Homo sapiens: one gene and its partners. The protein of the gene in region 3 purifies or fractionates together with the protein of the main gene of each other region. This does not show direct contact. Each region holds a gene or a part of one and is shown on either strand. Other genes may lie near its edges. The genes, in order: E2F3, SRP54, NUP98, RGPD2, MOB1A, NUP37 and TWF1.

The links.
Region 1: the proteins of NUP98 (region 3) and E2F3 purify together in Homo sapiens (pull-down; one large-scale study listed by IntAct). This does not show direct contact.
Region 2: the proteins of NUP98 (region 3) and SRP54 fractionate together in Homo sapiens (co-fractionation; one large-scale study listed by BioGRID). This does not show direct contact.
Region 4: the proteins of NUP98 (region 3) and RGPD2 purify together in Homo sapiens (affinity purification with western blotting, with the first as the bait; one study listed by BioGRID). This does not show direct contact.
Region 5: the proteins of NUP98 (region 3) and MOB1A purify together in Homo sapiens (affinity purification with mass spectrometry; one large-scale study listed by BioGRID and IntAct). This does not show direct contact.
Region 6: the proteins of NUP98 (region 3) and NUP37 purify together in Homo sapiens (affinity purification with mass spectrometry; 2 studies listed by BioGRID and IntAct, with this or other methods). This does not show direct contact.
Region 7: the proteins of NUP98 (region 3) and TWF1 fractionate together in Homo sapiens (co-fractionation; one large-scale study listed by BioGRID). This does not show direct contact.

The regions. Positions count from the first base shown.
Region 1 is NC_000006.12:20,485,088-20,489,190, reverse strand, and holds part of E2F3 (transcription factor E2F3), read right to left. Parts: intron 2,503-4,103; coding exon 2,388-2,502; intron 1,079-2,387; coding exon 943-1,078; intron 1-942.
Region 2 is NC_000014.9:35,017,234-35,021,336, forward strand, and holds part of SRP54 (signal recognition particle subunit SRP54), read left to right. Parts: intron 1-1,458; coding exon 1,459-1,532; intron 1,533-1,732; coding exon 1,733-1,841; intron 1,842-4,103. UniProt on the Homo sapiens protein: Component of the signal recognition particle (SRP) complex, a ribonucleoprotein complex that mediates the cotranslational targeting of secretory and membrane proteins to the endoplasmic reticulum (ER).
Region 3 is NC_000011.10:3,678,516-3,682,618, reverse strand, and holds part of NUP98 (nuclear pore complex protein Nup98-Nup96 isoform 1 precursor), read left to right. Parts: intron 1-2,910; coding exon 2,911-3,065; intron 3,066-4,103. UniProt on the Homo sapiens protein: Plays a role in the nuclear pore complex (NPC) assembly and/or maintenance. NUP98 and NUP96 are involved in the bidirectional transport across the NPC. May anchor NUP153 and TPR to the NPC.
Region 4 is NC_000002.12:87,822,394-87,827,074, forward strand, and holds the start of RGPD2 (RANBP2-like and GRIP domain-containing protein 2), read right to left. Parts: upstream 3,404-4,681; 5' UTR 3,337-3,403; coding exon 3,265-3,336; intron 1-3,264.
Region 5 is NC_000002.12:74,161,702-74,165,804, forward strand, and holds part of MOB1A (MOB kinase activator 1A), read right to left. Parts: intron 3,651-4,103; coding exon 3,517-3,650; intron 1-3,516. UniProt on the Homo sapiens protein: Activator of LATS1/2 in the Hippo signaling pathway which plays a pivotal role in organ size control and tumor suppression by restricting proliferation and promoting apoptosis.
Region 6 is NC_000012.12:102,113,062-102,117,164, forward strand, and holds part of NUP37 (nucleoporin Nup37), read right to left. Parts: intron 1-4,103. UniProt on the Homo sapiens protein: Component of the Nup107-160 subcomplex of the nuclear pore complex (NPC). The Nup107-160 subcomplex is required for the assembly of a functional NPC.
Region 7 is NC_000012.12:43,796,094-43,800,196, reverse strand, and holds part of TWF1 (twinfilin-1), read left to right. Parts: intron 1-694; coding exon 695-799; intron 800-1,611; coding exon of another isoform or gene 1,612-1,632; intron 1,633-2,363; coding exon 2,364-2,489; intron 2,490-2,744; coding exon 2,745-2,895; intron 2,896-3,099; coding exon 3,100-3,221; intron 3,222-4,046; exon of another isoform or gene 4,047-4,103. UniProt on the Homo sapiens protein: Actin-binding protein involved in motile and morphological processes. Inhibits actin polymerization, likely by sequestering G-actin. By capping the barbed ends of filaments, it also regulates motility.

The DNA of each region.
Region 1 (4,103 bases), on a different chromosome or scaffold from region 3:
TTTGCTCAGTATTAAATCAGACTTATTCACTTAAATCACCCTTATTCTTGCTGCTATATAGGGAGACACTAAGGGAAACAATTGCATATATATCTCCTCAAGTTAGGAAATGGAAAAATATATACTGCAAAGAGCTTCCTTTGCTCTTTGCAGAGCGGGAAGGAGAAGTTAGATTTCTTTTCTTTTCTTTTCTTTTTTTGAGATGGAGTCTCACTCTGTCACCAGGCTGGAGTGCAGTGGCGGATCTCGGCTCACTGCAACCTCCGACTCCCTGGTTCAAGTGATTCTCCTGCCTCAGCCTCCCGAGTAGCAGGGATTACAGGCACGTGCCACCACGCACAGCTAATTTTTGTATTTTTAGTAGAGACAGGGTTTCACTGTGTTGGCCAGGACAGTCTCGATCTCCTGACCTCGTGATCTGCCTGCCTCGGCCTCCCAAAGTGCTGGGATTACAGGTGTGAGCCACCGCACCCGGCAAGACTTACTTTCCTAGCGTTCTCCTCCCATATCCTCTCCCCATCTCATTGGGGGGGAAAATAAGACAAAAATTCTCCAACAAAGGCTTTTCTCCTCAAACCTTTTTCATTTCCCTCTCTGATGAGCTCTGCAGTGTGATTCAAAGGTGTGTGGCCAAGTGTCTCTGATGATCCAACAAGACAGTTCACAGCTTTGCTCCTCACTTTAGCTGGTTTTCAAAAATGCTGTAAGGAAACATTCTCTGCCAATAGCAAAAGCCTGAAGCGACTCCATAAGTGGGTGAAGGAGCCGTTTTTCCCAAATCATTATTTTCTTCTGCAAACCAGTCAGAATGTCTTTTAAAACATGTTACCTAATACCAATAGAAGTTTGTGTTTCTTGCCTAGGCTTGTGGTTCCAATACAGATGGTTCTAGTCACCCTCATTTTTAACATAGTTTCTAAAAGACAAAAGTGGAGTTTTTACCTTTGGAAGCGGGTTTAGGGATATTCCCATTGTGGTCTTGGTTGTTTGTTTTCATTGGACTGTGTGTTTCAGTCTCTTCTGGACATAAGTAAACCTCAATGGGCCCTTGGGTACTTGCCAAATGTATTTGTAGGCTCTATGAACAGAAGTGGGAGAAGTTCGAATCAGAAGTTCTTTTAGAAATAAAAGCCATAGTAATTCTTGTCTAAAAATGGAAAGTAAGAACAATGTTCGTTTTTCACTTGCTTTTTCCCTACTAGTCCAACTCTATGAAAGACTGTCATCCTCTAGAGCAGGGGTCAGCAAACCACAGCCTAAGGGCCAAATCCAGTTCACCAAGTGGCTTTGTAAATAAAGTTTTATTGGAAGAGAGTCACATCCATTCCCATTGTTTATTATTGCCTCTGGCTGTTTTCGTATCACAATGTCAGAGGTGCACAGTTGAATAGTCTAGACACAGGCTGTACGGCTCGCAAAGCCAAAAATATTTACTATCTACCTGGCACTTCAATGAAAAAGTTTGCTGAGTCCTGCCCTAGAGAAAGAAAACTATTTTAGTGGGGCTTGGGGGAGAGGGGAGTCATTCTGAAAATAGCACAATGGGTGAGGTGAATTGTGTTCTTTGGATATATTCTTTTTCTGCAAATTATTACAAGGTCCTTTAAGTGTTCCAAATTCAGTATCTCCATGTTATTGTTCCTTTATGGTAGGACTTTTTCATGTTGAACTGTATACTGATGAATAGTATTCTTAAGTGCTAGGAACTGCATCTATTAAGAGAATGCAGCATACCAACATTTAAAAATCTTTTTCATCTAGGTCAAAGAGCTATTATTATCTTTTAAGGTAAGAAGTCTACCCTAGATGGAAGCGTGTAACTTTCATTCTCTTTTTATCTCCTATGCATTTTCTTTTTACTACAACTCTTTATGTTATAGTTGTAGTCTAGGCCTCTATTATCCAAGTATATCTGAAAATTACAAAAATATGCCCCCTACTTTCTTGCAATATTCTAGTCTATCAGCTAACCCAAAGCCCCATGTGATCTCTCAAAATGTTATAAGTTAGGGAGAGACTTTAAAACATTTATATATCTGTTCGTGGTGGGGACCATATACAGGATAATCAATATAAACTTTCCAAAGTGATTCAAATTGATCAAAACCGTTGATGACAAATTATGAAAAAGAGAAAGTATGAGAGGGACAGCGCATCATATACCACTTTGAACTGAACATCCTGCTAGGTCAAAGTTAGGTTGTTTGAATACTCAATGAACATCAAACCATTGAAATGTTTTCAAATGTATGGTTAAGTAAAATAAATGGGAAAGAACCATCAAGTTCATAGGAGGGGGACAGACTTTAACTATGAGTCAATGAGTCATTCAATTTCAGGCATTCCACAAAGATCTTTGCAGATGAACAAAGACGCTGTCTCCTTACCTCTATTGAGTCAGGCACTTCAAGTCTTGTTTCTGGAGGGGCTTTCACAACTATAACAGTTTGGTCTTTAAGGCCACTAATTTTTCGAATATCTTGATATGTAACATAAGCTAACGTAAAGAGTGTCAAGGAATCTTCCATCTAATTACCTCAGATATAAGTATGATGAAAATGACAAAATAGATGCATGGAATATTTTAAAGTATTTTATGACTTAGAAGTATGCATATGTGGCCGGGCGCGGTGGCTCACACCTGTAATCCCAGCACTTTGGGAGGCCGAGGCGGGTGGATCATGAGGTCAGGAGATGGAGACCAACCTGGCTAACACGGTGAAACCCCGTCTCTACTAAAAATACAAAAAGTTAGCCAGGCGTGGTGGCGGGCGCCTGTAGTCCCAGCTACTCGGGAGGCTGAGGCCGGAGAATGGCATGAACCCGGGAGGTGGAGCTTGCAGTGAGACGAGATCGCGCCACTGCACTCCAGCCTGGGCGACAGAGCGAGACTCCTTCTCAAAAAAGTATGTGTATGTCTCCCCTTCTGGATGTGCAAATGTTTAGGGTCTCCCATGAATCTTCATTTCTGGTTGACACTCTAAACAACTAAAGAAATGAATAGCTTTATCCCGCCCATTTCTAAAAAGACTATGGCTATTTAAAATATTAAACATAGAAACAGAACAGTTAAAATAAATGATCATAAGAAAATAAAAAACTAAGTGGTCAGAAATTTTATCTTGAAGCCAGGGTCCTTTGCAGCACAGGCATTCCATGAACTCCAATAAAGTGTTCTGTCACTCAAACTGAATGATGGCAGATTCCAATTTGCAGGAAAAAAAAATGTAATCTCTATTAGCCATAATTTTTTTGAAACTCCAGTTACTTCTATCTACAAGCAAGTGTCAGCAGCCACCAAGTAAATAAATAAGTAACAAATACATTAGTGGAGGAACTCAGAATACTGCTCAGGCAGACAGCTTGTTTTCTTAAGTGCACCTGGGCTGGTTGTGATTATGTACTGCCTACAGAAAAGAGTGTCATTATTTCTGTTAGAAAAATTATGCTTTGCGTGATACTATATTAACTCTATCAATATTTCAGTGTTCATGAGGAAGAAAGCAGTTTCCAGGTGCTCTGCGACTTGAATGAATTTGAGAAACACTGATTTAGGAAAAGAGAAAAGTATAATATCTCAGTACTCTTGGTAGTTATTTCCTTTTTCTTTTTGAGACAGAATCTTGCTCTGTCACCCAGGCTGGAGTTCAGTGGCCCAATCTCAGCTCACTGCAACCTCCGTCTCTGGGGTTAAATGATTCTCGTGCCTCAGCCTCCCAAACAGATGGGACTACAGGCGTGCACCACCACACCCGGCTAATTTTTTTTATTTTTAGTAGAGATGGGGTTTTACCCTGTTGCCCAGGCTGGTCTTGAACTCCTGGACTCAAGTGATCTGCCTGCCTCCGGCCTCCCAAAGTGCTGGGATTACAGGTGTGAGCCACGGCGCCCGGCCTTGGTCATTTTTTCTAAGCACTGAACCATTCTTTTAAATGTCCTGACAGCCAAGCCTAAAAGGCTATCATGAAAGAATATGGTACTTACGATATGACAAAAGTATTCAATTAATGTACAATGTCTTTAGCCCGTTATTATTTTTTATATGTACCCACAAAAAATTCCTAGGATAAAACAGCAAGTAACAAACCAATGAAGGCATTTCA
Region 2 (4,103 bases), on a different chromosome or scaffold from region 3:
GTTTCCTTTCTGACTCCTGACTCTCCTTAAGTCTCTACATTTTTGTTTCTATTTCTAATATTCTACTCATTCTGAGATCTCCAAGGGTCTCCTAATTTCCACATGTAGTGACCTTTCTTGTTTTCCTTGGTTCCTAATATTTAAGTGTTTTCTGCCTTTTCTGTTTTCAGACTCTAAGTTCTATGTCTGTGGATTTCTTATATTATTCTAGCTTTAATTATCACTTCTGTATAAATGGCCAAATATGTATTTCAACCTTAATCCTCTCTTCCACTGTTTAATTCTGCGTTTCTAGTTGACTGCTATAACATTTCTTTTAAGATACTGTACTGCCACTTCACATTCAGAATGCCTGAACCAAATACCTTTTCTCTTTTTATCTTTAGGACATAAATAGAAAATACTTTCTCTTTTGGCTTGTTCCATCCCTGTTTTTAAACCTTAGGTTAGTATACATACAATGAAATGCTCAAATCCTAAGGATACCTTTCTTTTTTTGACAAATGCACAGTAACCCACACCCAATCAAGAAACAGAACATTTCCATTACTCTAAAAGGTTTGCTTGTGCCCTTTCCCGGTAATACTTCATATTATAGAAGTCCTGGGCTGTGCATGGTGGCTCACACTGTAATCCTAGTGCTTTAGGAGGCCAAGGTGGGAGGATCATTTGAGGTCAGGAGTTTGAGACCAGCCTGGGCAATGTAGTGAGACCCATATCTCTTAGAAAAATCCAGTGGCATGCATCCATAGTCATAACTACTCTGGAGACTGAGGCAGGCGGTCACTTGAGCTCAAGAGTTTGAGGCTACCAGTGTGTGATGACTGTACCACTTCAATCCAGTCTCAGTGATAGAGCACAACCCTCTTAAAAAAATAAAGAAATTCTGAGTATATCGTTTTTCTTCCAATCTGTTTTCTTTGACTAAGCATATTTTGATATTAATTCATGTAGTTGTACTTATCTATAGTTTGTTCTTTTTATTGCTGAATAATATTTTTTCCACAGTGTATCCATTTTCCTGTTCATAGATACCTAAGCTATTTAAGAAACTCCAAACAATCTTCTAAAGTGTCTTGCTATTCTATATTCTCACCAATATATGGGAGTTCTTTGTGGTCCACATCCACTTTAACTTTTGATATTGTCAACCTTTAAAATTTTACTCATCCTAGTAGGTGTAGTTTATGTGCCTTGTTTTCAGGTTTCTTGTGTGTTTGTATATGTGTCTTCTCAGATAGAATGTAAGCTTCTCTATGATAGGACCTGTCTTTGTCTATGTATTCTCCCCAGCATTCATCCTGTCATCTTGCACATGGTAACTGCTTGGTGAATATTTATTGATGTATATTTTATAAATATGCTTCAAGATGAATTCATGATTAAGGAATAAATTAGTTTTGTTGAATGGAAATGTACATACTTTAATATATCCGAATTATTTACATTGTATTTCAGGTCAGTTTACGTTGCGAGACATGTATGAGCAATTTCAAAATATCATGAAAATGGGCCCCTTCAGTCAGATCTTGGTTAGTTATCCTTAAAACTTTATACCTTCTTTTGTTTTCATTAAATTTTCTAAAATAGATACACTTGCTTTAATTATTTTTACATTCGGGTAAAAATATATCTAAGACTTAGTGTCAATATTAAACCTAATAGTTAAATGTGGACATTTTGAACCATTAATCTTAAGCTACTATTGACTTTATGTTTAAATCTGTTGTAGGGGATGATCCCTGGTTTTGGGACAGATTTTATGAGCAAAGGAAATGAACAGGAGTCAATGGCAAGGCTAAAGAAATTAATGACAATAATGGATAGTATGAATGATCAAGGTAAGATGGCAGATTATTTTCCTCAGGCAAAAATGTTCTGAGTATCAGTAAGATGAGAGTTTCACTGTATTCTTGTGGACAAGATGGGGAGAAATTTAGCCTGAAAGATTATTTTTAGGTAGATTTGTAATAGCTTGAAAGCTCTTACTCAAAGGGTTATGATTATTGGATTGCCTTCATCGTTGAGAGAAATGTCTAGTATAATACTTCTCCAAATGAGTTACAAGGAAAGAACACTAGTTCTTCATGATGTTCATAGAGTTAACTTAAAAGGAGAACTCTGAGTCAAATGTGGTGGAATGCTAGTTTTTAAAGAGTTAAATTTGGCTGGGTGAGGTGGCTCACACCTGTAATCCTAGCACTTTGGCAGGCCAAGGTGGGAAGATTACTTGAGGCCAGGAGTTTAAGACCAACCTGGCCAAACGTAGCAAGACCCTGCCTCTATGAAAAAAAATTATTTACTGAAAGTCTCTTCACGGAGCTTTAATATTGCTAACATACATTGGGAAACTAAGAAATGGATAGCTTAAGCAATGCTTAGAAAATTCTTTCTGTCTGAAACATAAGAATTCAGTTTTCTCAGTATACTGCTCTGTTCCCCTGACCCTATAAAGGCATGCCTCAGAGATACTGTGGGTTTGGTTCTAGACCACTGCAGTAAAGGAAATATCATGCAATAAAGTCAGTCATACAGATTGTTTTGGTTTTCCAGTGTATATAAAAGTTATGTTTACAAATACATATACTGTAGTCTATTAAGTGTGCAAGAGCATTATATCTAAAAAACAATGTATATACCTTAATTTAAAAATAGTTGATTGTTGGCCGGGCGCAGTGGCTCACGACGCCTGTAATCCCAGCACTTTGGGAGGCTGAGGCGGGCGGATCACCTGAGGTCAGGAGTTTGACACCAGCCTGGCTAACATGGTAAAACCCCGTTTCTACTAAAAATACAAAAAAATTAGCCGGGCGTGGTGGCACACACCTGTAATCCCAGCTACTTGGGAGGCTGAGGCAGGAGAATCGCTTGAACCCGGGAGGCGGAGGTTGCAGTGAGCCGAGATTGTGTCATTGCACTCCAGCCTGGGCGACAGAGTGAGACTCTGTCTCAAAAGAAAAAAATAAAAAAATATAGTTTATTGCTAAAAATGCTAATGATCATCTAAGCCTTCAGTGCATTATAATCTTTTTGCTGGTGGAGGGCCTTAGCTTGATGTTGATGACTGCTAACTGATTACAGTGATGGTTGCCAAAGGTCAAGGTGGCTGTGACAATTTCTTAAAACACAAGAATGAAATTTGCCCCATTGATTGACTCTTCTTTTCACAAAAGATTTCTCTGTAGTATTCGATGCTGTTCGATAGCATTTTACCCACAGTAGAACGTCTTCCAAAATTGGAGTCAGTTCTGTCAAACCCTGCTGCTGCTGCTTTATCAACTAAGTTTATGTAATATTCTAACAATTTGAACAATTTTTCATATCTGTGCTTTATCTACTATCTGATTTATTGTTATTTTTTTGTAGTCTCTTTTTCCTGAGCTCCAGGTTTTCATAGTAGCCCAAATAAGACTGTCTTTTTCTTTTAAGGTTGTTTTTTTTCCTCACTGTCTTTAACACTGCAAAAATGTTTGCATGTAGAATTCATAATTGCAGCATATCTAAAGTATCCATTCTGTGCCAGGCACTGTCCTGAGCACTTTAAATATATTAATTCATTTTATCATCATAACAACTCCTATGGCATATTCAGTTATTATCTGCCTTTTTCAAATTAGGAAACTGGGATACAGGGAAGTTGAGTAATTTGCCCAGTATAGAACCTTTCCTGACTTCCTTCCTTCTTTGAATTAACGCCCCTTCCTCTATTTGCTTAACTCTGTCGTATTACTTGCCACGATGTGCTGCTATTAGTTTATCTTCTTTCATTTGATTTGAGCTGTTGGAAGGAATATAATATATATGTTTCATAAATCTTTTATAAGGAAGATGTGGCTTAAAAGCTGCATTTATGAAATGGATTTGGAGGTTTTGATCGTGACTTTATTTTGAGATATTGTATCTTTGTTAGTATTGCATTGATAATTAGACTTCACCTGGATTTCAGTTCACTTCTGGACAATATACTTAGAGGGTATGTATAGACAAATTAAAAGATGTAGGAAATCAGGATGATAAATGGGGTTCTAAACCATGTTAGAAGAGTCAGAGGTGGATATTTGTCATCCAGCGAAAATTCACAGGAGACATGGTAGCTCTTATGC
Region 3 (4,103 bases):
TTTGGGGTGCCACCAACTGCATCCATATAAGATGGTCAGTTGATAAATGTGCATATTCTGGCTGCTCCATCAACTGGTCATCCCCATCTCTTTCCCTCTCTTTGGGCCTTCCTATTTCCTAAGACCCAATAATCACGAAATTAGGCCAGTTAATAACCCTACAATGGCCTCTAAATATGTTCAAGTGAAAGGAAGGGTAGCACAACTCTAACTTTAAACAAAAGCTTGAAGTGATTAGGTGTACAGAGAGAAGCATGTTGAAAGCCAAGATAGGACAAAAGATAAGCCTCTTTGCCAAACAGCCAAGTTGTGTTAAAGGAAAGTTCTTGAAGGAAATTTAAAGTGCTACTCCAGTGAACATATAAATGATATGAAAGTGAAACAGCTTTCTGGCTGATGCGGAGAAAGTTTTTGTGATCTGGATAGATGAAACCAGCCACAACATTCCCTTAAGCAAAAGCCTAACCTCCCTTCAGTTCTGTGAAGGCTGAGAGAGGTGAGGAAGCTACAGAAGAAACGTTTGAAGCTAGCAGAAGTTGCTTCATGAAGTTTAAGGAAAGAAGCTGTCTTTCCATTCCATTAAAGTGCAAGGTGAAGCAGGAAGTGCTGATGGAGAAGGTACAGCAAGTTACCCAGAAGATCTAGCTAAGATCATTGATGAAGATGGTTACACTAAACAACAGATTTTCAGTGTAGATGAAACTGCCTTCTATTGAAAGAAGATGCCACCAAGGACTTTCATAGCTAGAGAAGAGAAGTCAATGCCTGGCTTCAAAGCTGCAAAGGACAAGTTAACTCTCCCTTTAGGGCTAATTCAGCTGGTGATGGTAAGCAGAAGCTCATTTACCATTCTAAAAATCCTAGGGCCCTTAAGAATTATGCTGAATCTACTCTGCCTGTGCTCTGTAAACGGAAAAACAAAGCCTGGATGACAGCATATCTGTTTATAGCTCAGTTTACTGAATACTTTAAGCCCACTGTTGAAACCTGCTCAGAAAAAAAAAAAATTTCTTTCAAAATATTACTGCTCATTGATGATGCACCTAGTCAGCCAAGAGTTCTGATGAAGACGTATAAGGAGGTTAATGTTTTTATGCCTGCTAACACATCTACTCTGCAACCCATGGGCAAAGGAGTAATTCAGCTTTCAAGCCTTATTATTTAAGAAATACATTTCATAAGACTATAGCTGCCATATAGATAGCGATTCCTCTGATGGATCTGGGAAAGTAAATGAAAACCTTCTGGAAAGGATTCACCATTGTAGATGTATTTGTAGGCCAGGCACGGTGGCTCGTACCTGTAATCCCAGTACTTTGGGAGGCCAAAGCGGCAGATTGCTTGAGCCCCAGGAGTTCGAGACCAGCCTGGGCAACATGGTGAAACCCAATCTCTACAAAAAATACAAAAATTAGCTGAGCATGGTGGTGCGTGCCTATATTCCCAGCTATTTGGGAGGCTGAGATTGGCGGATCACCTGAGCCTAGGGAGGTTGAGGCTGTAGTGAGCCACGACCATGCCAGTGAACTCCTTCCTGGGCAACACCGTGAGACCCTGTCTGGGGCGGATGGTGGGAGAGGAACATTTGTGATTGGCCAGGCATGGTGTTATGTTCCTGTAATTTCAGCTACTCAGGAGGCTGAGGCAGGAGTACTGCATGAGCCCAGGAGGTTGAGGCTGCAGTGAGCCATGATCACACCACTGCACTCCAGCCTGGGTGACAGAGGGAGATCCTGTCTTAAAGAAAAGAAAAACAAAAAAGAACATTTGGGTCCGGGCATGGTGGCTTACACCTGTAATCCCAGCACTTTGGGGGGCCAAGATGAGTGGATCTCTTGAGCTCAGTAGTTCGAGATTAGGTTGGGCAACATGGTGAAACCCCATCTGTACCAAAAGTACAAAAAAATTAGTCGGGCCTGGTGGCACACACCTGTGGTCGCAGCTATTCGGGAGGCTGAGGTTGGAGGGAGGATCACTTGAGCCTGCGAGGCAGAGGTTGCAGTGAGCCAAGATCGTGCCACTGTGCTCCAGCCTGAGTGAGAGAGTGAGACCCCAACAAAAAAATACACAAAAAACATTTGTGATTCATGGAAGGAGGTCAAAATATCAACATTAAATAACAGGAGTATGGAAGGCATTGAATCCAGCCCTCATGGATGAGTTTGAAGGGTTCAAGACTTTAGTGGGGGAAGTACTTGCAGATGTGATGGAAACAGCAAGATAACTAGAATTAGAAATGGAGCCTGAAGATGTGACTGAACTGGTGTCACTCATGAGGAGTTTGCTTTATAGACAAGCAAAGAAAGCAGTTTCTTGAGATGGAATCTACTCCTGGTGAAGATGCTGTGAACATTGTTGAAATGCCAGCAAAGGATATGGAATATTACTTAAGCTTAGTTGATAAAGCAGCAGCTGGGTTTGAGAGAACTGACTTCAGTTATCTTATTTTAAGAAATTAGCATAGCCATCACAACCTTCAGCAGGCAACACCCTGATCAGTCAGCAGCCATCAGCATCAAGGAAAGACCCTCCACCACCAGAAAGATGACTTGCTGAAGGCTCAAGTGATTAACATTTTTAGCAATAAAATATTTTTAAATTAAGGTATGTATATTGGTTTTTTAGACATAATGCTGTTGCACACTTAATAAGTGACAGTGGTATAGTGTAAACATAACTTTTATATCCACTGGAAAACCAAAAAATTTGTGATTTTATTGTGATACCTGCTTTATTGTGGTGGTCTGAAATGAAACCCACAGTATCTTTGAGGTATGCCTGTATGTGCTTTTACTTCTGAAGTCCAGCCAACATTATTTCTCCTTCCTTTCTGTCTTCCTGCCATGTCTTCTGTACTTTTGGAAACTATGCACTTGTGCAGACATTGTGCTCAATACTTTGTTTCTTCAGATGCCATCATTAATGAGAACTATGACTACCTGAAGGGGTTCTTGGAAGACCTGGCACCTCCAGAGCGCAGCAGCCTAATTCAGGATTGGGAAACATCTGGGCTTGTTTACCTGGACTATATTAGAGTCATTGAAATGCTCCGCCATATACAGCAGGTACCTGAGATCCTGAAACTGCTGCCTGATTTTCCTTTTCTCAGGCCCTTAAATCTTCAGATACCTCACAAGGCCTTAGTATACACTTGAGAATGCACTGACAGAGATAGCACTGTCAAAGCAGGCATCTTGCTGAGGCTCATTTGATATAACCGTTTCTGACAGCTATATCGAAACTTAAAAATGCTATTTTATGTTGATTACCAACTAGTATGTGCAATAGACATTCCTGAGGCTTGTCCATAGACAGTCTCTTCCCCTTGTTCAGTCCTAGTTTGAGTGAGAAGCCCAAAGATGAGAGATAAAATAAGAATGGAGATTTGGTGAGGGTGAGGATAGCTGTTTTACACATCATTTGGCATGTTTTAAAATTGCAAATATGGGTTTTAAAGTCAATGTCTTCGGTCAGTTTTTTTTTTTTTTTTTTTTTTGGAACAGAGTCTTGCTCTGTCATCCAGGCTGGAGTGCAGTGGTGTGATCGTGGCTCACTGCAACCTCTGCCTCCCAGTCTTAAGTGAGTCTCATGCCCCAGCCTCCCAAGTAGCTGGGAGTATAGGGTGTGTGCCACCACACGCAGCTAACTTTTGTATTTTTAGTAGAGATAGTGTTTCACCACATTGGCCAGGCTGGTCTTGAATTCCTGGCCTCAAGTGATCGGCCCACCTTGGCCTCCCAAATTGCTGGGATTACAGGCATGAGCTTACCGCACGCCTGCACGCAGCCTTAAGGTCAGTCTTTGTAGTCGTAAAATGAGTCTCCACTGCTTGCTTATGGTGCAAAAACCAAACTCATTATAATAAATATAGGATTCAAGTCCTTTTAGAGGCTTTTACCTTTCCTGCCTTACTCCTACCACTCTTATTCCACGTTCCAGCCTTGCTAGCCTGCTGTACTCACACTAAATTACTTCTGGTGTTTCTAACAAACCATATTATGTTCCACACTACCTAGCACACTTAAACTCATCCTTTTAAGATCTAGGTTGCTGTTACCCCTACTTCTCTCTGCTTTTCCCCAGAGATAATTAATTGCACTTTC
Region 4 (4,681 bases), on a different chromosome or scaffold from region 3:
GTTACCAAGAACAAGACTCTCATCAGACTCCTAACAACAGAACTTCTGGAAAATGGAGCAATGCTTTCAAAATTGCGAAAAAAATTATTTCAAACTCAGAATTCGATAACCAAATGATCAACTAAATTAAGTAAAGATGTTTTAAAGACATACCATTAGTTTCCAGACCAGCCTGAACAGTATGGTGAAATTCCATCTCTACTAAAAATAGAAAAAATTAGCCGGGCATGGTGGCGCACACCCGTAATCCCGCTACTCGGGAGGCTGAGGCAGGAGAATCACTTGAACCCGGGAGGCGGAGGTTGTGGTGAGCTGAGACCATGCCACTGCACTCCAGCCTGGGCAACAGAGCAAGACTCTGTCCCAAAACAAAAACAAACAAAAAAACCTCTCATCCACTTTTCCTCAAAGCAAGTGAACTATGCTACACCAAAACAAAGAAAGTAAATGAAGATGACATGAGATACAAGAAACAAAGGGTCTAACTCAGAAAAAAGATGAAGGGAATTCTCAAACTGGTGATAAAGGGAAGTCCCAAGAGCACAGCTGTGTAGCAAAGAGGAAGAAAAACCAATCTGGGTTGGAGAAGTCGGTTAGTAAGGGTATTCCAGGTAGACAGACAATCAATCAATCAATCAATCAATCAATGTTTTAAGCTGAAATTGATCGGATTATGTGACCAGTTTGACCACATTTGAGGGTTTAAGTTGCTGAGTTTAAGTAACCAAGTAGTAACACAACATACAAGCAAACCAAAAAATAAAGCAATTATTCAGTCCAGGAAAAACAAAACTGCACAACAAGGGCAATTCAAATGCAAAATATTTACCTTATATTTATATAAATGTTAAATATTCATTTAAACAAAAACTCCAATAACAGTACTGAAACAATGAGGGGCAAAGCAAAGTGTCTGAGGACAGTTTTGGAGGAGCATAATAGCCAGTACAGAATGTCTAAAGTGGGGCCGGGCGCGGTGGCTCACGCCTGTAATCCCGGCACTTTGGGAGGCTGAGGCGGGCGGATCATGAGGTCAGGAGATCGAGACTATCCTGGCTAACACGGTGAAACCCCGTCTCTACTAAAAATACTAAAAAATTAGCCGGGTGTTGTGGCGGGTGCCCGTAGTCCCAGCTACAGGCTGGGGCAGGAGAATGGCGTGAACCCCGGAGGCAGAGTTTGCAGTGAGCCGAGATCGCGACACTGCACTCCAGCCTAGGCCATAGAGCGAGACTCTGTCTCAAAAAAAAAAAAGAAAACAAAATGTCTAAAATGGGAGAAAGGGAATTCAAAATAACAAAAGTATATGTGTGTGTTACTCAGAAGCATGAAGTATAGATGTAAAGGGCAGAAAAAAAAACTAACAGCTGTCAAAGGTGCCTGCCTGTAGTCCTAAGTACTCAGGCAACAGAGGTAGGAGGATCATTTATGCCCAAAAATTTGATGGCAGCCTGGACAACACAGCAAGACCCTATTCTAAAAAACAAATAAATAAAAATAAGAGCTGTCAAGTAGAGTTTGAGAAGTAGGAATCAGCTGCAGAATAAGAAACCAACTTGACAGAACATAGAAAAACTAAACAGAAGCCATCTGGAAAAAGAAAAACTAGAGAAAGAATTATATATTTTTTTATTTTTTTATTTTTTGGAGACAGAGTCTCGCTCTGTCACACAGGCTGGAGTGCAGTGGCGCAATCTCTGCTCACCACAACCTCTGCCTCCAGGGTTCAAGCAATTCTCCTGTCTCAGCCTACCGAGTAGGTGGGACTACAGGCGCTGCCACCACGCCCGGCTCATTTTTGTATTTTTAATAGAGACGGATTTTCACCATGTTGGTCAGGCTGGTCTCTCTGCCTCCCAAAGTGCTCGGATTACAGACGAAGAATATTTTTAAGAAGGGCAAAAGCACATGTGAGGGAGTAGAAAAATGGCAAAACAAGAGAAGATTAACAAATGAAAGCACAATGGAAGACTAGAAAGATATGATATACAGACGCATCATCACACTCCAAAACTCAGACATTCTAGAAAGCATGGGCAGTTCACAGATGGCCAGCCTCTGCCAAACTGGGGGAGAATACTAACCTCTTTATATTCTTCACAGCCACTGCCTCTTCTCCCTCCATTCCTTACCTTCTATCCAAAGCACCCTGTTTTGTCATTTCACTCAAACCTAACTTTACAGAATAGCTTCACATGTTCCAAAGTTACTCACTAGTTAATCCATATTCCGTTGAAATCCCCAGGTTCTAATGTAAATGACTTTAAATTTGGGGGAAAAAAAAAGACTCTAAGTGTAAGAGAGGTGAGGCCGAGGCCGAGGCCGCCGCCGCCGCCCGGCCAGGCCGAGGCCGCCGCCGCCGCCGCCGCCGCCGCCCGGCCAGGCCGAGGCCGAGGCCGAGGCCGCCGCCGCCGCCGCCCGGCCAGGCCGAGGCCGCCGCCGCCGCCGCCCGGCCAGGCCGAGGCCGAGGCCGCCGCCGCCGCCGCCGCCGCCGCACATTAACCTTTTAAGTTAAAGATTAAGAGAACCAACACCTCTTTACAGTGAAATGCCCCAACTAAATACTACCGTATGGCCCACCATAATTGCCCCCATACTTCTTACACTATTCCTCATCACTCAGCTAAAAATATTAAATACAAATTACCATCTACCCCCCTCACCAAAGCCCATAAAAATAAAAAACTATAGTAAACCCTGAGAACCAAAGTGAACGAAAATCTGTTCGCTTCATTCATTGCCCCCACAATCCTAGGTCTGCCCGCCGCAGTACTGATCATTCTATTTCCCCCTCTATTGATCCCCACCTCCAAATACCTCATCAACAACCGACTAATTACCACCCAACAATGACTAATCCAACTAACCTCAAAACAAATGATAGCCATACACAACACTAAAGGGCGAACCTGATCTCTTATACTAGTATCCTTAATCATTTTTATTGCCACAACTAATCTTCTCGGGCTCCTACGCCGAGGCCGCCGCCGCCGCCGCCGCCGCCCGGCCAGGCCGAGGCCGAGGCCGCCGCCGCCGCCGCCGCCGCCGCCCGGCCAGGCCGAGGCCGAGGCCGAGGCCGCCGTCGCCGCCGCCGCCGCCCGGCCGAGGCCGAGGCCGAGGCCGCCGCCCGGCCGAGGCCGAGGCCGAGGCCGCCGCCCGGCCAGGTCGAGGCCGCCGCCCGGCCAGGTCGAGGCCGCCGCCCGGCCAGGTCGAGGCCGCCGCCCGGCCAGGTCGAGGCCGTCGGTCTCTTCGAGATCCACTCACCTTTCCAGGCGACGGGGCGGAGCCCTGCACCGAGGCGAGGTACCGCTCCCCGTAGGCTTTGCTGCGCCTCATCGCACCGCCAACCTGGCTCCCGAGACGCGTGAAACCAGCGCTCAGCCCCGCAGCAGTCGCCAATTCCAACAGGAAAGCGCCTGAAAGCCACTGACGTAGCCGGCGGAGGACCACTGTGACGCACTTGTGTACTGCGTCAGCACTGTGTATCCTTGGCGACGTCGGCGCTCGAGCTGCACTCGGCCGGGCTCTTGGCAGCACCCTGTGCTCTGAGGGTGTCTTGCCCGCCGGGCGCCGTGGCTCACGCCTGTAATCCCAACACTTTGGGAGGCCGAGGCGGGTGCTGTAAACCATTCATTTGCTTATTTCAATATTTTCATTTGTATGCTTTCAGATAAGCTGAACTTGTTCCAATCTGCTATACATAGGTTTGTTTATATCTTTACAGTAAATATCTCAGTTAAGAATTATTTTCTCTTTGTAAAGACATTGTGACTCAGATACTACTTGTAAAGTCTATAGGAACACACAGCTAGTAAATGGCATAATTGAAATTCAAATGGAAATCTGATTCTAAAATATACTTGTAGCAACATAGCTGATTCCTGTTACTGTATCTGCTCCTGTAAATTTTGTAAATTCATTACAATTTTTAAAATATAAAATATTTTCATATATTTATTTAGTCTTTGCTACCATGAATAGCTTCAATGGGAATGATGATTAATTCTAGAATGTGCTTGTCTTTTACATTTCTATGATTTTTAGGGTTAAAATAAACCTTGTTGGTTTACAAATGATTCCTGAATGATTTCTTTCCTCTAAATGCTACAGCACTTCACTACAAGGTCTGCAAAGAAGCTATGTGGGGGAGTGAAGTAGGAGGTGACTGAGATTATGTAATTAAGTTCATATATGTCATAATTTTTCATTGTTCCCACTGTTTTAGAGAAAAGTAACAAAGGAGAAGACATGTGGGCGTGTAGAGAAATGCAAGGTGGAGATATTAATGCTACAGTATAATCTTCTGTGGGTGTTTAGCCTGGGGATGAGAAAACTAAGGAGAACCATGCCAGTTGTGTTGAAATATTTGAAGAGCTGTCATGCAGAAGAGAGAATAGACTTTTTTCTGTAGGCCCAGAGGGTATAACTAACATTAAGGGAAGAAAGTCATAGGGTAGAAAAATTTTATTCAATTTAAGGAATAACTTTCTAATAGTGCATAGTATTGGAACAGGTGGCTGCATAAAGTCCCACGAAGTGTTCATTCTAATGCTGAATACCCATGCACCAAGAATCCTGTGGAAATGATGCTTGCAGGGATTAAAGAATGAAGTAGAATCTAATCTAATATAGCCTCTTCCTACTAGAATGCCAAACTCAGAAAGACTTTCTCTCTGTTCTC
Region 5 (4,103 bases), on a different chromosome or scaffold from region 3:
CTCAAGCTCTTTGGGAGACTGAAGCAGAAAGGTTGCTTGGGCCTAGAAGTTTGAGACCAGTCTGGGCAACACAGTGAGACCTCGTGTCTACAAAAAATTGAAAATTAGCTGGGCGTGGTGGCACACGTGCCTGTGGTCTCAGCTACTCAAGTGGCTGATGTAGAAGGACCACTTGCGCCTGGGAGGTCAAGTCCACAGTGAGCTGTAACTGCACCACTGCACTCTAGCCTGGGCAACAGAGTGAGAGTCTGTCTCAAAAAAAAAAGTAGATTTCAAAATCAAACATCTTTTTTTATCAGAATGTATAAATGGGCATCTTTCTAATAAAAGGATATTAATAATGTGCATATATTAGTAAAAAATTAATGATAAACAGTTCTGTCTGAGACTAAATAACTGGCAAAAGTAAGATGCAGATAATAGCCTAATGGCAGGGGAGTGGGATTAAGAGGTGGTGGATCAGAATGAATTATTTAAGAACAAGAAAGTGAGAAAAAAGCCAGGCATGGTGGCTCATGCCTGTAATTCCAGCACTTTGGGAGGCCAAAGTGGGTGAATCACTTGAGGTCAGGAGTTCGAGACCAGCCTGGCCAACATGGTGAAACCCTGTCTCTACCTAAAACTACAAAAACTAGCCAGGTGTGGTGGTGGGCGCCTGTAGTCCCAGCTACTTGGAGGCTGAGGCACGAGAATCGCTTCAACCCAGGAAGTGGAGGTTGCAGTAGAGCCGAGACTGTGCCACTGCCCTCCAGCCTGGGTGACAGAGTGAGACCCTGTCTCCAAACAAAAAAGAGAGAAAAGAGGATAAATCAAAAGAATTATTTACCTTCCATAAGCAGAGACTTTAATGAGTAAAGAAATAAGTAATTTGTTTAAATCTAAACACTTTCCAAGCTGAATTTAACAGATATATTCAAGCACAGTCAATATAAAATAAAGATATATGAGAAAGGAAATAAAAGGTTTAATAGCAGAATGGAAAAACTGACCAACAACAAACAGACCAAATGTTAACAACTTGGAAAAAAACTGTTGTCCTGAAAAGCCTCTATAAGACTGCAAAAAGGAATTCAAAAATATGTTGCTCATAAAATACTCTTAAGTTGAAAATGACAAGGAGTGATTTCATCCATGAATACTGATGCCAAACTCTTAATCAAAATATTAACAAATACTCTTCCAGCAGAATATTTTTATTAAAAAATGGAGAAAACCTTATGGTCATAGGCAACAGATACTGGAAAAGCATCTGATAAACTCTATAGCCATTCCTCGTTAAGAACAATTTTTGTAATATAAATGGTGGATATTTTTCATTAATATAATTTTTTAAAAATCCATACACCTCTAACCAAAAGCCAAGATTTCGGCTTACTGCAGAAATACTAGAAGTACTTGCATAATAGTAAGAAGGCAAGAAACGGATGTCTGCCATCATCACCATTACTCGGCATTGCGCTTGAAATACCACTCAGTGCAATCAGATAAGCAAGCGTAAAAACAAGAATACATTATCAGAAAGGAAGAGACAAAATGAACACTATCTTAATATGACACAGTTGTATACTTTAAAAATTCAAGAGAACCAACCAAAAACTAACAGAAAAAGAGTCTGATGGTTAATTATAAAATTTAAATAAAAATCAACAGCTGGCCAGTCCTGGTGGCTGACACCTGTAATTCCAACACTTTTGGAAGGCCAAGGAAGGAGGGATGCTTGAGCCCTGGAGTTCGAGACCAGCCTGGGCAACATAATGAGACCTCATCTCTACAAAAAATAAACAAAATTAGCCAGGTGTAGTGGTGCGTGCCTACAGTCCCAGTTACTTGGGAAGCTAAGGTGGGAGGATCACTGGAGCCCAGGAGATCAAGGCTGCAGAGAGCTGTGATCACACCCCTGCACTCCAGGCTGGGGAACAGAGTGAGACCCTGTCTCAAAAAAAATTAAAAATAAATTACAATAAAAACCAACAGCTTTCCTATATACTAAATAACCAGCTGGAAACCAGATTATCAATAAAAGACATAAAATCCCTAGAATAAAATTAAGAAACTTGAACAACTGACATAAACTACAGAATTTTACAAGAGAAAATAAAGCTAAAGACATGAATAAATGAACAATATCTTGTTCTTGGCTAGGAAGATTCAGTAAAAAGAATCCCTATCTATAAAAATTAAATATAGTCATAATTAAAATCTAATTTTTTTTTCACCTTGACAAAATGTTTCTAAGTTCTTTGGAAAAACAAATATCCCAGAATAGCTGTGAATATTCTGAAAAAGAAGAGCGAGGAAGGGAGACCAGCCTTACAAGATGCTAACAGATGCAGAGCCACAGTCACCAACGTGTGGAATTTCTATAGGAACAGATAAAGAGACTAAAACATGCAAAAATATATGGCAATTTGTTGTGCACATAAGATAATCAGGGGAGAAAAGGCAAATGTGTTTAATAAATGGTAATGGGACAAACTGACTAGTATTTCCATTTGGAAAAAAATTAATGTAGCATTCAGGGAAAAAAAACTTCCCAGCCAGGCGTGGTGGCTCATGCCTGTAATCCCAACACTTTGGGATGCCAAGGCAGGTAGATCACTTGAGGTCAGGCGTTCAAGACCAGCCTGGCCAACATGGTGAAACCCCATCTCTACTAAAAATACAAAAATTAGCTGGGCATGGTGGCATGTGCCTGTAGTCCCAGCTACCCAGGGACTGAGGCATGAGAACTGCTTGAACCTGGGAGGTGGAGATTGCAGTGAGCCAAGATTGTGCCGCTGCACTCCAGCCTGGGCAACAGAGTGAGACTCTGTCTCAAAAAATAAAAAAATAAAAAAAGAAAACATGAATAAATATTTTTATAATCTTGAAGCAGGGAAAAGCTTTCTAATTGTTATATTAAAATCAAGTCATAAAAGATATAATAGGACAAAATAGTAAGGTTGTGTACAGCAAAAATACTCCATGAACAAAATGAGACAAAAGGTAACCCGGGGAAAAAGATATACAACACATACGACAAAGCGCTAATATCCTTTACACAGAAATAGATGAAAGATATAAACAGAAAACACACAATGATCAATAAAACAAACAAAAAGGCTAAAATGCTCAATCTCATCAACATTTTTTAAATGCATATTAAAACAGAAATTTAACCAAATTAGAAAATATTAAAAAATGAGTAATAACCAGTGTTGGTGAAGAAACACTGGCAAACACAAACAGGGCTGGGGGGAGTACATGTTGGTACAAACTTTTTGGAGGAGAATTTGGCAGTCTCTACAAGTATAACAATGTTAAAAAGAGCAGATTTATCATTCAAAAAGAGAAACAGGCTGGATACGGTGGCTCAAACCTGTAATCCCAGCACTGTGGGAGGCCAAGGCAGGAGGATCACTTGAGGCCAGGAGTTTGAGACCAACCTGGACAACACAGCAAACCCCCCCAACTCTATTTATATTAATAAAATAAAATTTTAAAAAAAGAAAGAATACTTCGACAATGTTAACTCACCAATCTTAGAAGGAAAAAGAGTTTCATCATCAAGCTGATCTTGAACCCAAGTCATCAAATAGTCAATGTATTTTGGTGCAGAACATTTGATTGGCTTTTTAATATTAGTACCATCTGCCCAGTGATATTCATATCTGAAGAGAAAAATGTTTTACTGATAAATTTTTCAAAAATATTAACAAATGTGCAAGTTGTGATTAAAACAGGTTCATTCACATTTTGTCAATAGAAGTTACATCTAACTTTAATAAATCACCTTAAGTTCTACTGAAGATTACTGTGAGTTCCCTATGTAATTATCCAGAAAGTGACAGTTATAACTGGAAGAAAAAAGGGAGATAATGTGGCAGGAGGCAATGCCAGGATAGATGTTTTATTAACAACACAGCCCTGGGAAACACAAAGGAACTGCATTCCTGTAAAGCAGAAGGTTGCTGAGGGCTGGGCATGGAGCCGATGGATCCACTACATTCTTCTGAGATTCTTGGTCATCAATTTATTATCATCAATGGACCCAAGATTATAAAACTCTGTTTTGGGGGCCAGGTGTTAGAGATATACATTAGGCATGCATACTTTCCCCCCTT
Region 6 (4,103 bases), on a different chromosome or scaffold from region 3:
CCATCTGTCGCTGGCAATGGAGACAATAACCTGAAAAGTTCTCCCATTACAACATTGCAAAAATTCAAATACAGACAAGCAAACGACTACCAAGGTATGCAGCTGTTATAAGGGTATCTGCCTACATGCAATGATTTAAAGCTTCAGTTTGCAAGAGAGAAGAGACAAATCCTAGTGCCTGCACAAGGAAGGATGCCAGATCAGAGATTTCTGCATAGATCCAGGGCCCGATTAAGGGGAAAGCAGGAAAAAACAGACAAACAAAAAGAAAATCCTGCCATGCAAAATACCTACCATGAGTAAGGGAAGGATACTTAGGGGGCTTCAAAAGAATTGCTAATGTTCCTTTTCTTAAACTAAGCAGCAGGTATACAGGGATCCATCTTATTACTCTTTATGCCTTTATGGATAACACATTTTTTATAAGCATTAAAATACTGCTCAGCACCATAGGAAAGGTAAAAAAGAAAATGATAAAAAAATTTTGCAATTTTAAAAATAAGTAAATCATCCTTCTGTTATTTAAATCAATACCTGAACTGGGTTTGAGACTAAAGAAGGCCAAATTTTCGCGACAAATTTGTCCAAGGAATCTTCTGTGCTAACTACAGTTTTCTTTATAAAAGTGTATGGTATTATAAAGTATCAGGGAAAAAATCCAGCAGGTGAAACTTGATATTTAATGAAATACGTATGTCTATATTGATAGGAATTACTTGAAGGCCTGATCTAAGCATTCCATTCACCCAGAATCTAAATGCAAAGTTTTATAATGTATACTCGAATGAAATCCAAGTAGATATACTGATTTTTCCAGGATAGCCTATGGGATCCCAGTAAAGTCATTTCACAAATATACTACACATCTTTCTCTGCATAATTCAGATACCCTTTGAAAATAACTTCAAATTTCAGGTGAACTTAAGAGTTAACAGCAAAAAGTTTTTCCACAAATGAAAGAAATACACTTATCAAGGAAAGAAAAACACTGTCAAATTTTACTACTTCGTAATTTGTGTGTATAATAGTTGTATAGCTAACAGCCAGATATGCCAAGACAGCAGCCACTAAACAATTTTAAAATAAGTTTAGGAGCCTAATCATAGCTGACTTCACAGTTTGGATTACATCTATTTTTCCAAACTTGACAAATCAGTCTCCTAAAAATGAAGTTTTTGCATGTAAATACACATCATCTTGCTACTGTAACAATATTGTTGACAATCAAGTCCTTTAATTTGTTACCCAAATCACATATGGAATTACTGGGTGGTCATGGGGATAAAGAAATCTCAGGGACTGTACAGCCTGGGCTTTTTGTTTTACCAGTGAAACCTGTTTTCCTGGCAGCACTGTTTGCCACTGAGCCAACTAAAAGGCCCGTGTGTGTGTGTGGTATAGGCAGAGACAAATGCTATTTTGGATTTAGTTTGGGGTATAAGCAGAATTGTATAGGCAGGAAATTAAGATACTTTGGAAAACTTGCTATAATACAAATGATTATACAAGGTTTCGGCATATTTGAGGTTGGGGCAAAGCCAGGTTGATGGAAGGGCTATTATAAGGGTTTGAAACTGGCAGGCCCTCCCACCACACCCATTTAAGGCCAAATACAAATTTCAGTTAGTCAAGACTGTGAAGTTTCTCTAGTTCAATTCTTTCCCCCCAATGCTTGAATCCCTAGGAGAGCATCTGAAAAAAAGAGTTTACACAACCCCTCTCTGAACACTTCCAGTGACAGGGAACTAGCTATTTCTTTGGGAAGTTTATTCAATTGGGGGATAGCTCTAATTATTAGAAGAGTTCTTAACGTTAAGCCAAAATCTGTTTCCATGTAAATTCTACTCATTATTCCACGTTCCATCTCTGGAACCACACCAAATCAGTCTAACTTAATGATGACAAATATCTGGCCATAGCTGATCTCCTCTAGGTGAAGACACACTAAGCAGCAGATTCAGCCTCAGCCTGAAAGCATTATAAGCAACAACTCTGTCCATTCAAATAGAGATGACAAATAACATAAAATCCATTTACCATTGAGTCTAATACCTCTTTCACAGTTTTAAACATTTAGATACTACCCTGAAATTTGTATTAAAATACATTATCTTCTCTGAATCATAATATACTGCTGAGAACTACAGAGTATTATTATTATATTAAAGATTACTGTCGATTTACAGAGGAAGATGCAGAGAGAACTGTGCTGTCTGATATGGTGGCCACTAGCCACACAGGACCTTATGAAGCACGTGAAATGTGGCTAGTTCTATTTGATATGTGTACACTTTAAAAAGTGTAAAATACATACCAGATTTCTAAGTCTATTCAAGGGGTCTTCATTAGTGAATTGAGGCCTCTAGTAGAACTTGGATGAGAACATTGATTTAGGCAAGCATATATGTTCATGCTCCTCTGCCCTTTAACAAAGGTTTTTATAGCAGTTTTCTTATTGCACTGCTTTATATGTAAATATTTCCTTAAGGATATGGTCCTTGCTTTTTTCATGTCTTGGCACCCAGTATGCACTTAATGAAAATTTGACAAATACACGACACCAGTTAACAGTACTATCATTCAGAAGCTCATATGTCCATCATAATCAAAGGGACAACATGAGATTCTGAAAAATGCTTTATTGAAATTCAAATTCACTATATCTACAACGTTTTCTAAACAGCCTTAAAATAAGGATTATCTTTCTGTCAGGAATGTGAAAATCTTTCCACTTAATTTACCTTTACTTAGTTTTCTCTCAAGACAAGAGGCATGAAACTGGGTGCAATGGAACTTGAAGGTTCTAGGACAACAGAATAGTAATGTTTAACAGTGTTTAGCTAGATAAAAAATAACTCCACAGAAAAGCAATAATTTATTTTGAAATGGACTTACTTAATTGTATTTCCAATGTCTGATGCAGAATATAATTTGTGTTTACTATTGTCCAAATTAATAAAAATCTAATTTTTTCCTTAGTAATTTGGGCACGAGACCTACATTGCTAATCTCACAGGTATGAGGGTAACTGAGACAATACATGTGACCATAAACTATAACAGAACACAAATGTTTATACTAGTTCTTTTTTCTCATGTTAGTCATTTTCCTTCTTTCTCCCAACTTCTCCCTCTCTCATCTTTGCCTCTCTTTTCCTAATTTGTTCTCCACTGACTTTCTCCCTCAACATTTCTTAATCATAAATGAGATAAACATTTTTCAGTGTTTGCGAATACAATCCTATGTTGTTATTAATTTTAAAAGTAATGAAGTAAAAATTAGTTTTACCTGTAGGAGGCTGCTTTACTCTTTTGTACATTGGTGGCTTGCATTAGAGAAATGGTTTTTCCTCAGTCTTTTTCAAGTACGTAACATTGTCTTAATCATATGACTTTTTATGATCCTAAACCATGTCCATGTAAGTCAGGCTAGGGTCATATTTAGTCTAAAAGCTATTAATTTCTACTCCCACCCAAACAGACAGTACGAAATAGGCTAGGAGCTGTCATATTCTACTCAGACAGCAACAAACTGAAACTTTCAATTCACACTTCCTCTTAAATATGACTATATTCCAATTTGTAAAGCTTTATATATTCATTGTGCTATAAAATGCCAAATTGCATTTTTGATGTCAGAATACTGTAAGATACAGAATTGCCGCTGGGCATGGTGGCTCACGCCTGTAATCCCAGTACTTTGGGAGGCTGAGGCGGGCGGATCACGAGGTCAGTTCAAGACCAGCCTGACCAACATGGTGAAACCCCGTCTCTACTAAAGATACAAAAAAGTTAGCTGGGCATGGTGGCACGTGCCTGTAATTCGAGCTACTCAGGAGGCTGAGGCAGGATAATTGCTTGACCTCGGGAGGCAGAGGTTGCAGTGAGCAGAGATCGCACCACTGCACTCCAGCCTGGATGACAGAGCGAGACTCCGTCTCAAAACAAAACAAAACAAAAACAGAATTGCCTTCTCAGTAAAGGAGGAAATAACATTTATAATAACTATCACTTTAGTGATAGTTATTTTAAATCTTTGAAAATTGGACACTTCCAAATTACCGTGCTCATTATAATTTGAGAAATACGGTTCTATTAATAATA
Region 7 (4,103 bases), on a different chromosome or scaffold from region 3:
ATATGGTAAATATATGTATTTACACATATATACACAAATTGAAACACTGAAATATATTTTTGAACTTTTTTGTTTGTTTAGAGCTTTTCTGATTCAGAAAGTCATATAATCTAGTGGATAGAGCACAAGACTAGATGGGAATATATTGCTTCTTCACCATTAATTGTGAAGTGGGCTGGTTTCTTAATTTCATGAGTCTCAGTCTTCTAAACCACAAAATTTTGATGATAGGTAGACCTCTTTGTAGTATTTTTTTCTTTTGACATGAAAACTATAATAATTTTCCATGAATAATTACAAAGAAATTATATTAAGCATTATAACATAGTATTCAGAATCTGAATATGTTGATTATTGGATAATCATTGGGCAGTTTTCTCCAGAAGGTTAATTACAGTTGTCCTATAGACTTACAGGATGACCAGGTTCAGTATTTCACTTTGCCAGTATGAAACTCATACAAAATATTTAGTAATTATAAAGCTTCATATAAAATGAACAGTGGGTACTCCCCTTAAAAAGTTTTGAAACTTAAAATTGAGGATTAAAGAAAAGTAAAAAGATATTAAAATTCATAATGCTATTTATTTTCATTTAAAATCTTTTCTGTTAATGATTTTGTTTTTCCTAAAGTAACTTCACTGTCATTTTACTTCTAGAGAATTACTGATTATAGTCTATTCTGTACTTACAGGAAGATGTATCATTACATGGATATAAAAAATACTTGCTGTCACAATCTTCCCCTGCCCCACTGACTGCAGCTGAGGAAGAACTACGACAGATTAAAATCAATGAGGTAAGTTACAACTACAAAGTCTTTGCAAGATTTTAAGTGTTTGAAAATACTGTATTTTTAATTAATAGATGTGGGAGGATAACTAGAGATTAAAGAAGTTAGGTAGCTTAGGTTTATTCCGTTTAGTTTAGAGATAAGGCTATGTGCTTAATGCCTTTTCAGAAAAAAAAAGTTAAAATGAATATTAAACTTTATATGCATTTTATAAATAGCTTTTCCTATAATCTTCATGTCAGAATAGTAAATCTTCCTTTTGAAGTACAACTGTTGTGAACTTTGTACTTTGAATATTATATAGAGAAAAAGTGTGTGTTACCCATTTAGTGCAAAGAATGTATCTAATAAGGTTGCCTGAAGCAGATTATTGTTTTGTTGGCTTTCTAGAGAGTCTACAAATTAACTTCTATGAACTCTACTTGAATAGAGATATATATGGAAGATTATTATTTGAGTACCTGTTGAGCATATTAGAGTCAATAAATTTCAGCCATATTATTTTGTAGTTTATCATTATTTTTAATGTGTTTTCTACAGCCATTCTAACATACTGGAATAACTACTGTATTTCTACTGGGACTTTACAGAAAAGAACAAGTGGCTGAAACCACTATTCATTAGCTGAAACCACTGTTCATTAGCCTGAGTCACAGACAGTAGGAATCAGTCTGGAGAATGGTTGAATATCATTTAATATTAAACTGGTAGCAAGGATCTATCATATTATTTTAATTCATATTATTTGAGTAGGGCTTTTTATGTGATTTTTTTTTTTTTTTACGAGTTTGATAGTTTGTTTTATTTCTTGCAATCAGAGCCCAGAGGATCATATTGGGGTATGCATTCGCATATGTTCTATGATGTTTTCATTAACCAATATCATTTATGCTGTAGAATCTCCATTCATTTTTTTAAAAGTAAAATTTCTATTGGACTTTCTGTTGCAACACTGCGAATGAGACTCTCTACTAGCTATCATTTATCAAGTATAAAAATCTTAAACATGTGCATTGAATGCTTTCTTATCTTTCTCCTCTTCCAGTACATGCACACCATGTTCTTAGTAAAGAAATCTCTTAAGTCTGGAACTTCTGCAGTAGTATAACTTGTTGAGCTGTGTTGTCTTTGTACACTGTTTGTACTCCTTTCAATTCAGTGCATGATGTTTGTGTTGCATTTTCTGTCCAACAGAACAAAGTAAAGTTCTATACATATTGTATGTAGATTGTTGTTTATAAATTCTATCAAGTAAAATTTTACAATCAGTGGTGTAATCTGATGACACTCTAAAGAAATTGTGCCAAACCAAACATAAAAACAAACCCACCCAAACCCCACTAACTGTACACTCATTCAAATGTTCACTTCCAACATTGTCGTAAAGATGTGTCATGCACTCTGCATGTTGACAAAATGCTAGCAGGACCGTAAACAAATGTGAAAAATAATTTTAATTATAGGTTGGGCTAGGGTTGAATGATACTATTTTATAGAGGTTGGGTTTTCTTATGTTTGCCATAGGATACTGCTAACTGCTAAACTTGTAAATTAAATCTGTCATACTTAGGTACAGACTGACGTGGGTGTGGACACTAAGCATCAAACACTACAAGGAGTAGCATTTCCCATTTCTCGAGAAGCCTTTCAGGCTTTGGAAAAATTGAATAATAGACAGCTCAACTATGTGCAGTTGGTAAGAGATGTATAATGATTATTAAGTGGCTGCTCTTTTTGGTAGTTTATGACTCATATAGGGTTTATTATTAATGGATTTTACATTTTAAATAGCTTTCTGATTTCTAAAATTCATTTTGTAAATGTTCATTGTGAAAAAGTCAAACCATCCAGAACTAAGTTCCTCCTTTATCTCTTGGTCTTTTTATTATATGTTTTAACTTAATTTCCTTATATCTGGTTTTAATGAACATATTTTGTTTCTTATTGGCAGGAAATAGATATAAAAAATGAAATTATAATTTTGGCCAACACAACAAATACAGAACTGAAAGATTTGCCAAAGAGGATTCCCAAGGATTCAGCTCGTTACCATTTCTTTCTGTATAAACATTCCCATGAAGGAGACTATTTAGAGTCCATAGGTATATGATACATTGTTTTTAACACATTACTTTCAGTTTGTTTATTGGTGTATCAGCCCTATATTCTTACTTATTTCTTGCCCAGAGGGCTTAGCTGTAGTTTTATGAAGTTTCTGTACTTGTTTTTATGAAGTTTATATATGTAGTTTTATGAAGTTTATGTATTGATATGCTAATTATATTTGTTATTATTTGAACTTACAGTTTTTATTTATTCAATGCCTGGATACACATGCAGTATAAGAGAGCGGATGCTGTATTCTAGCTGCAAGAGCCGTCTGCTAGAAATTGTAGAAAGACAACTACAAATGGATGTAATTAGAAAGGTAGCCCACCTATTTTAAAATCTTCAGTTTTTGCTAAATTTTTCTTTTCATTTCTATGTAGTTTATGATGTACTGTGATTTATAAATGAAAATATTTATTTTTCTTGTTATCATCCTAAATCCTTAGGATCTCCTCTAAGTGCCTGGGAACTACCTGTCATGATCCCCATCTCTATATATATCTGTACTTCCTAGTAAGCCACATGTGGCTATTTAACTTTAAATAAGATTTAAAGTTCTGTTTCTTAATTCCACTAGCCTTATGTCAAATTCTCATTAGCTAAATGTGGCTACTGGCTACCGTATTGGTTAGTGCAGAATTTATAGGACATTTCCATCAGTGCAAAAAGTCCTATTGGACAGCGCTGCCAGAGCTGCATACTTGTGATTATTTCTACTGCATATTAATAAGGAATTACAGTCTCCATTATGACTGAATTATGGGATGGTTGGGAGTCTTTCCAGTTTGGGGGAAGGAAGGAATAAGCATAAACATTTGAATTTTGGGAACTAAGCTACCAATTTTCTTAAATTTTCTTAAGTACAGATAAGGCATGGGGAAAGATATATATTCTTGAGCCCTTAAACTCATAAAAATACAGGTCCTTAAAAACTACCAGTGTTTTTAGGTTCTGAACCCTTCATGCTTTTTAAGTTCCTAAGAATCAATCACTTTATCATGGGTAGCACCTTCTATAGCAGGGATCAGCTGACTTTCTACAGAGGACCAAATAGTAAGTAAAGGCTTTGCCAAGCCACATATAATCTCTGTCATATATTCTTATTGTTGTTTAACAACCCTTAAAAAATGTAAAACAATCTTACCTTGGGCAAGATTTGGCCTTCGGGCCATGGTTTGTTTACCTCTCTTGTAGAGGGCTT